Regions from separate parts of the Homo sapiens genome. Here regions 2 and 3 are each linked to region 1. Evidence: fine-mapped expression QTL. A gene starts in region 1. Each other region holds a variant in brackets. All regions are shown on one strand. Distances are from middle to middle. Region 1 holds the start of ACAD9-DT (ACAD9 divergent transcript). Region 2 overlaps PLXND1 (plexin D1). Region 3 overlaps CNBP (CCHC-type zinc finger nucleic acid binding protein).

Evidence for each region.
Region 2: its variant is fine-mapped to the expression of ACAD9-DT in cerebellum (GTEx, PIP 0.98).
Region 3: its variant is fine-mapped to the expression of ACAD9-DT in T cells (GENCORD, PIP 0.95).

What each region holds. Positions count from the first base shown.
Region 1 is chr3:128,877,897-128,880,396 of GRCh38, reverse strand. ACAD9-DT (ACAD9 divergent transcript) reads left to right here and starts at 961. Exons shown (of 3, transcript NR_186174.1): 1 at 961-1,261. ACAD9 (acyl-CoA dehydrogenase family member 9) reads right to left here and starts at 777. Exons shown (of 18, transcript NM_014049.5): 1 at 556-777. The coding sequence starts at 705. RefSeq lists enhancers at 1-202, 511-590, 203-1,055, 651-1,200, 1,056-1,907.
Region 2 is chr3:129,573,532-129,576,375 of GRCh38, reverse strand. PLXND1 (plexin D1) reads left to right here. Exons shown (of 36, transcript NM_015103.3): 10 at 521-610; 11 at 814-907; 12 at 1,886-2,040; 13 at 2,631-2,782. Among named protein-coding and RNA genes, the nearest start is that of PLXND1, 32 kb to the left of the region's middle. RefSeq lists an enhancer at 2,595-2,844. The variant C/T (reference allele first, on the strand shown) is at 1,577.
Region 3 is chr3:129,171,145-129,173,988 of GRCh38, reverse strand. It overlaps CNBP (CCHC-type zinc finger nucleic acid binding protein), which reads left to right. Exons shown (of 5, transcript NM_003418.5): 2 at 2,218-2,355; 3 at 2,451-2,543; 4 at 2,712-2,844. The coding sequence starts at 2,232. Among named protein-coding and RNA genes, the nearest start is that of CNBP, 11 kb to the left of the region's middle. The variant TCTGC/C (reference allele first, on the strand shown) is at 1,381.

The DNA.
Region 1 (2,500 bases):
CCAAGACCAAACCCAAGTCTTCCAACTCTAAGAAGACAATGAGTGTTTTATAACCAAACTGTTACTATTGGCTGGGTTGTGCCACCCTTGGGAAGCATCTTGGAGCCAGATTTCTGAGGAACCTCAATGGCAGGGAGAGGCGCTGGGCTCACCTGGGGAAGGAAGCCCCAGGGCGCTGGAAGGTGACTGAGGAGGGACATGGTGTAAGCTGTTTAGGAATCAGAGAGGAAGCCCCGCACATTTCCAGACCAGACCAGCTGAGATGAAGGCTGCTTTGTTAATTACCTAGCCTAGAGTTTTCCGAATTCCCCTGACAAAATTTAGCTGGAACACGTCACCACCACATTTCCAAGGGTCCCCCGTCTTGGAAATGTCTCACCCTTTCTCTGGGAAGGTTTTCCTGGAACTCAGGAATCCGGAGTGTTAACACGCCTCGGCCGCAGGGTGTATCTCTCTGGCAGGTTTGGGGAATCTCACAAAGTTCAACACCAGTCTTGCAGCTGAGGGTGAAAAGCGGGAGCCAGACAGCAAGGGTTCGCCCAGGGCTCGCGTTACCTTCTTGATTTTGCCTAGGAAAAGCTCTTTGGCGAAAGCTCGTACAGGCGGGCTGGTGCGCAGTAGCCGCCGGTTCGCGGTAGAGACCACCAGACCCCGGCAGGCACGAGCCGCAGCCGTGGTGCGCAGGAAGAGCCCGCAGCCGCTCATGCTGCCCGATGTTCCCCAGCCTCAGCCTCAGTCTCCCCTTCTTAGCGCCGCAGGGACACACACACGTCTGATGACGTTACTGGCCCGCGACAACGTGCAGTACTCACTGCGCTTGCGCGGTCCCCCGCAGCAGGGGATGGAGAGGCCAGAAGGGCGGGAAGGCTACCACCTGCCGCGCCCAAGGCCTTAGTCACGTGCACCTGGCTGGCCCGCGCCGCCTGATGACGTCACACGCCTACGCTTCCCGCCGGCCCCACTGCGCTTGCGCGGCCAAAGGAGCTGGCCGGAGGAAATTGTAGGCCCTGGGCCGCGGGCATCTCGGCGGGTATAATCTCTGGCCGTCGTGACGGCGGTGACGGACCTGTTTTTCACATACCAGCGGTTGTTTCCATAAATGCCAGCCATGGGAAATCTCCCTGTGTACAGAAACCTAAAGGCCGGCTCAGCTGCCTCCACTTGTCTCTTTTGTCACTTGTGGCCACGAGGCCGTGGTAAAACTTGAGAAAAGCAAAAGAATGAGGGAAATGCGCTGTATTGGGGTCTCTGCAGGGGCACGGTAAGGGTAAGGGTCCATTTTTAACTGGATGGTGGATTCCTGAGATACTGTTTTGTTCCTAGTTGACATGTATGTTACATATATTTTTTGGAAAAGGAAAAGAAAGTGGGTGTTCAGTCACAGAGCGGTCTGGATACAACTGAGTCACCTCTGTCCTGGGAAACACTAACTTAAAAGGCAGGCGGAGGAAGAGAAACTACAGAGAGAGCTGAGAAGAGATGGGAACTATTGGATGGGATGGGACAGGCCAGGCTGTAACCGCCCAAGGTTACAGCCCGCTGACTAGACAGCTGATTTATCAAGACGGAAATTGCAATAGAGAGAGAGTAATTCACGCAGAGCCGGGTGTGTTGGAAAGGGAGTTTTATTAGCCAAATCGGTCTCCCCAAAAACGGATCGGAATTTTTAAGGATAATTTGGCGAGTAGAAGCTCGGGAAGTGGGAGGTGCATGATTGGTCGGGTTGGAGATGGACTGATAGGGGGCCGAAGTGAGTTTTTCTTGCTGTCTTCTGTTCCTGAATGGGATTGCAGAACTAGTTGAGCCAGATTACCAGTCTGGGTGTTGGTAGGTTTTACAACAGTGATGTTATTCCCAGGAACAATTTGGGGGACGTTCAGACTCTTGCAACCAAAGGCTGTATGGCCTCTAAACTGTAATTTCTAATCTTATAGCTAATTTGTTAGTCCTCCAAAGGCCAACTGGTCCCAGGCAAGAAGAGGTTGTTTTTTGTTGTTGTTGTTGTTGTTTTCCCGGGAAAGGGCTATTTTTGTTTTGAAGTTAAACTATAAACTCATTCCTTCCCAAGGTTAGTTCAGCCTACGCTCAGGAATGAACAAGGACAGCTTGGAGGTTAGAAGCAAGATGGAGTTGGTTAGGTCAGATCTCTTTCATTGTCTCGGTTATAATTTTGCAGTGGCGGTTTCAAGGCCAGGCCATAGGGGCCCACGTAGGAGGCAGGGCATGCCTGGCACCTCACAGCCCAACAGTGCTCTGAACGTGGCACATGGGCCCTCTACAGATCTTCAGCCAGCTCCTCCAGGAAGAATGCCACTCTGCTTTTTCACCCAGACCGGTAATCTGGCTCAACAAGTTTTGCAATCCCACCTAGGAACAGAAGACAGCAAGAAAAACTCACTTCAACCCCCTATCATTCCATCTCCAACCCAACCAGTCAGCACTCCCCACTTCCCGAGCTCCTACTCGCCAAATTATCCTTAAAAACTCCGATCCCTGTTTT
Region 2 (2,844 bases), 700 kb before region 1:
GAACAGGGGGCTTTTAAGCTGGATCCTGAAGGCTGTGTTGAGCTTTGCTGGGTGGTAGAAAGGAAGACAGGTGTTCAGGCGAGGGGAGGGCTCAGGCAAAGGCCGGGGCAGGAGAGTCTGGCCGTGTTGGGCGTTGGGGCACGTCTGAGCAGGGCCTGGTAGGGCAGGATGGGAGGTGGGAAGGCTCGAAGAGCAGGGGAACCCCGCTGGGAGTGGAGCCTTAGGAGCTGAATACAAGGCCCCTGGGTTAGATCACTGGGGATGCTGGAGAGGCTTTTAGTGGTGCTGAGCGCATGAGGCCAAAGTTCTTGGCATTCCTGCACTGCTTGCCTCCCTCAAACATTGGACGTGATGGCCAGGAAGGGGATTTTGGGGGACGGGACAGCCCATGCAAAGGCCTGACAGTTCGACCAAGCCCACCTTTCCCAGCAGGAGCCCGTGGTGTCCTGCTGGAGTTAGAGGGCAATGCATGCTGGCTTGGTTCTCCTCAAACCCGCCTCCCACTCCCTGTTTCCCACAGGGTGCAGCCCTGGAGTGTAGTTTTGGGCTGGAGGAGATCTTCGAGGCTGTGTGGGTGAATGAGTCTGTTGTACGCTGTGACCAGGTGGTGGTGAGTGGGGTGACTCCAGCATGGGCGGAGGGCGGGCCTGCGTTAAGTCCAGATGCTGTACCCCTCACCCCACCCTGCCTCTCTCTACCTTCTGGTTCCCCCATCCCCAGCAGCCCCAACTTCATCTGCCTCCATGACACCCATCCCCAGCAGAGCCCCAGGCATTGCCCATGCCCCCTATGCTCTTTTCTGCCCTTTTGCAGCTGCACACGACCCGGAAGAGCCAGGTGTTCCCGCTCAGCCTCCAACTAAAGGGGCGGCCAGCCCGATTCCTGGACAGCCCTGAGCCCATGACAGGTGGGCACCCCCACCCGCCCCACATGGCCTCGGGGCCTCAGTGCAGTGGGTGGGGCTCAGCCTTGTGCGACTCATTCCAGTGGTTGCCCCAAAGCCGCAGATGTCCCACCCCATTGTTCTCCAGCACACACACAGCCTCATATCCCAGCCCTGCCATGCCATGCCAGGCTCCAGGCCTTGGGGTCTCCGTGCATAGTTTCCCCTGCCTTCCTGGGCCTGATCGTCCCCATAGGAAACAGGACACAGTCCCTCTGCAGAGCTTGTAAGGACCTGATGAGCCAGGGCTCGCCCAACCTTGAGCGTGGCATCTGGGGTGTGGTCAGCTCCCCTCGCGTGGCAGCTGTGCAGTTGCTGTGACTGTCTGTGTTGGGTCCACTCTCCAGGGGCTCCTCTGTTCATGGGGAGTCTCAGGCATCCCTGGTGGACGTGGTGCCCTCCAGATTCCCACCATGAAGGTCCCAGAACGGCCCTGCATACCCAAGGTCCTGGAGAACCCTCCCTGCCCTCCTCTTTGGGCTACTTGGAGGGTTTGAAGCCCCAAAGTACTCATAGTCCACATTACTCAGGGATCCCCAGCATCCTAGGGCCCCGCCGGGGTTGATCAGACCCACTGAGGTCTGGGTGGGATCTGGCTTTACCACCCACAGGCCTCGTGAGCTCAGGCGAGTC[C/T]CTCCTGTCTGAGCGTCAGCCTCTTCTCTGTAAAGTGAGGCTGACCTGAGGCTCCCAGCTGGAGTCTCTGTGAGGGGAAGGAAATCAATGAAGCAGGGGCTGCACTGTGCTCAGCACAGGCCCCAGGGGTTTGGGGAAGGGGCTAAGAACCTCAGGGGATCCTGACCCCCAGAATCAGGACTTCCTCTGGGTGGGGCACCACAATGATGGGGCGCAGACCTCTTGACAGTTGTTGTGTGTGGAGGGCACAGCGGTGTTGGGGCATGCACCGCAGAGCGGGGCTGACCGAGCTGCCCCGTGTCTCCCCAGTCATGGTCTATAACTGTGCCATGGGCAGCCCCGACTGTTCCCAGTGCCTGGGCCGCGAAGACCTGGGTCACCTGTGCATGTGGAGTGATGGCTGCCGCCTGCGGGGGCCTCTGCAGCCCATGGCTGGCACCTGCCCCGCCCCCGAGATCCACGCGGTAAGCATGCCCAGTGGAGGCACGTGGCACCCGCACTCCGGCACGGCGCATGCGCAGTGCCCTCGAGGGTCCCACTTCTTGGGGACCCAAACGGCACATACACCGACACATGGGTGCAGTATCACCTGTGAACAAAAGGAAGTGCTCTGCCTCACAGAGCTGATGTTTCAGTGGGGGAGGTGGACAGTAATAAATAAGGAAATGAATAAATTATAGAAGGCATTGGAAGTGTGGCGTGGAGGAGACACCGAGGGCTGAATGTTGTTAGTTTCAGGGGATACCATGATCACTAAAGCCACCAATGACATGGCCAAACATTGCTCCTGGAAGCTGACCTCAGCATCCTCCAGGAGACCCCCTAAGTAGCGTCCCCAGGCCCACGTGGGCTCAGTAATGCACACCCACATCCTCCTTGCCAGCACAGTGACCTGCCAAGTGGCCACAGTCCCAGCCCCACCTGAGCCTCCAGACCTTCCTCTAAGCAGTGGGTCTGCACGGCTGTGCCCTGCTGGGTGCCTGTGACTGTGGGCAGAAGCCTGCTGGCCTGCAGCCTCAGATCCCATTCGCCCCTCTCTCGGGTCACCTGGCAGATTGAGCCCCTGAGTGGCCCGTTGGACGGTGGGACCCTGCTGACCATCCGAGGAAGGAACCTGGGCCGGCGGCTCAGTGACGTGGCCCACGGCGTGTGGATTGGTGGTGTGGCCTGTGAGCCACTGCCTGACAGATACACGGTGTCGGAGGAGTGAGTAGCCACGGTGCCCCCACCTACCTTCTCCAGCAGTGCCAGCCTCTGCTCTGTCCTCC
Region 3 (2,844 bases), 290 kb before region 1:
AGTGTAATTTTAAGTCACTAAATTTGTCCACAAGTTAATGATTAAACAGTTACTGAAAGTGGAGAACCTTGCCATTTTTCGGACTGCGTTTTGGGTCTTTGGCACTGTGGTTAGGTTAGCTAATTCGATTATCCACTCAAGTTTTACTCAGTTGGAAATATGTTTTTCTAGATGATGGTGCCTGTGCTTAGGTTTGAGAGGATATTTAAAATACGACTTTGTGTGCCATTGTTTGACAGTGGAATTAAGGGTAAAAATATTTAGATATGGAAGTGTGAAAATGTAGTTGCATTGTTTTCATTATGTTCTATTCCATTTCATTCTATTTTAAGAATAGCCTCAATTTATTTTTAGATTGTTACATAAGTACAAAATCCATTTGCTTTAGTGGGAGTTTTATTTTTATTTTAAAATGATAACCAATTAAAGGAGTTTATTATGAAATTCTAAGTAGCATTGTTTAAAATGTAAAATTACATTACAGAAACATTTGGAAAGGGGAGAATAAAAGAAAACAAAACACAAATGTTGCCAGTGCTGTAGGTGCTATTATTAGCGCTTTGGTGTAACTCATGGTCGTTTTCCTACTATTTTTATTATACAGTCATCTCTTGGTATCTGTGAAGTGGTTCCACAAACTCCCTCAAATACCAAAATCCTCCTATGCTCAAGTTCCCAATATAAAATAGTGTAGTACTTGCATTACAACCTTTGCACATCTTCCCATATACTTTAAAATCATCTTTAGATTACTTATAATACCTAACACAATGTAAATGCTGAATAAGTAGTTGTTAACATTGTATTGTTTAGGGAATAATGGCAAGAAAAGTCTGCATGTTCAATACAGATGCAACTTTTCCACTGAATATTTTTATTCCAAGGTTGGTTGAAGCCATGGATGCAGAACCCATGGATATAGAGGGCCTACTGTACTTGTACCATCTAGAGATAAGATTTGTATCTTGCATTTGTTTTAACATATCTGTTCTAAGGAATATCTCAGTCACCAGGCAAGTGCTGCAGTATAACTAGGTACTACGTCAGGTGCTAAGGTTAAGAGAGTATTTTCCTTCACTGACTCCTCACTCCGAGAATCCATTTTACAGCTTCATTGGTTTGGGTTATTCCAATTTTTTGATGTGAGTAAATAAATGACTTCTATTTGCCCAAAATAAAGCTTATATAGGCCTTATAACCATGCAAATGTGTCCATTAAGTTGGACTTGGAATGAGTGAATGAGTATTACTGCCAGTGTGTGTGTGTGTGTGTGTGTGTGTGTGTGTGTGTGTCTGTCTGTCTGTCTGTCTGTCTGTCTGTCTGTCTGTCTGCCTGCCTGCCTGCCTGCCTGCCTGCCTGCCTGGCTGCCTGTCTGCCTG[TCTGC/C]CTGCCTGCCTGCCTGCCTGCCTGCCTGTCTGTCTCACTTTGTCCCCTAGGCTGGAGTGCAGTGGTATGATCTCGGCTCACTGCAACCTCCACCCCCCGGGTTCAAGCGATTCTTCTGCCTCAGCCTCCTGAGTAGCTGGGATTACAGGCGCATGCCGCCATGCCCGGCTGTTTTTTGTATTTTTAGTAGAGACGGGGTTTCGCCATGTTGGCCAGACTGGTCTCAAACTCCTGACCTCAGATGGTCCACCCGCTTCAGCCTCCCAAAGTGCTAGGATTACAGGCATGAGCCACCGTGCCCAGCCACTACCAATTATTTCTCTTAATGGATTTTCATTGACCCTAACCCTGTAAATTCCATCACTTTTATCAAGGTGTATATTATAATAAGTCTATAATACCCAATCATGTAGTTGTGTGATTATTTTATTTTTTTGAGACAGAGTCTCAATGTTGCCCAGGCTGGAGTACAGTGGCACCATCTCAGCTCACTGTAAGCTCCGCCTCCTGGGTTCACACCATTCTCCTGCCTCAGCCTCCCAAGTAGCTGGGATTACAGGCGCCTGCCACTTCACCGGGCTAATTTTTTGTATTTTTCGTAGAGACGGGGTTTCACCATGTTAGCCAAGATGGTCTCGATCTCATGATCCACCCACCTCGGCCTCCCAAAGTGATGGGATTACTGGCGTGAGCCACCATGCCCAGCTATTTTTTTAACCAATATATTAGCTAGCTTTTTTCCCCAGAATAATTTTCCAAAAATACATTTAATAGAGAATAAAAGTTAAAAGAACTTTCAGTGGTTTAATGCTGTTACTTTTAATATTTCAAAGATCTGACTGCAGCCATGAGCAGCAATGAGTGCTTCAAGTGTGGACGATCTGGCCACTGGGCCCGGGAATGTCCTACTGGTGGAGGCCGTGGTCGTGGAATGAGAAGCCGTGGCAGAGGTGGTTTTACCTCGGATAGAGGTATTTTGTCGAATAGAAAAATTTGAAGTACTTCAGTATTTGTTAGTATCAAGACTGGTCTGACTAGCCGAATTCTTTGTTTTTGCTCAAAACAGGTTTCCAGTTTGTTTCCTCGTCTCTTCCAGACATTTGTTATCGCTGTGGTGAGTCTGGTCATCTTGCCAAGGATTGTGATCTTCAGGAGGATGGTAAGTATTTAACACTTCCTTTTCATACCCCTCTAGAGCTTGGAGAGGTGAGCACATGCAACTGTGTATAGCATTTCCACCTTTGAGGTTTTGTATTGTATAATTTAAAACGTAACACTTTGTAAAGGTTTTATAGTCTTGGCCTGTTTCTTTTCCTTATTGTTGAAGCCTGCTATAACTGCGGTAGAGGTGGCCACATTGCCAAGGACTGCAAGGAGCCCAAGAGAGAGCGAGAGCAATGCTGCTACAACTGTGGCAAACCAGGCCATCTGGCTCGTGACTGCGACCATGCAGATGAGCA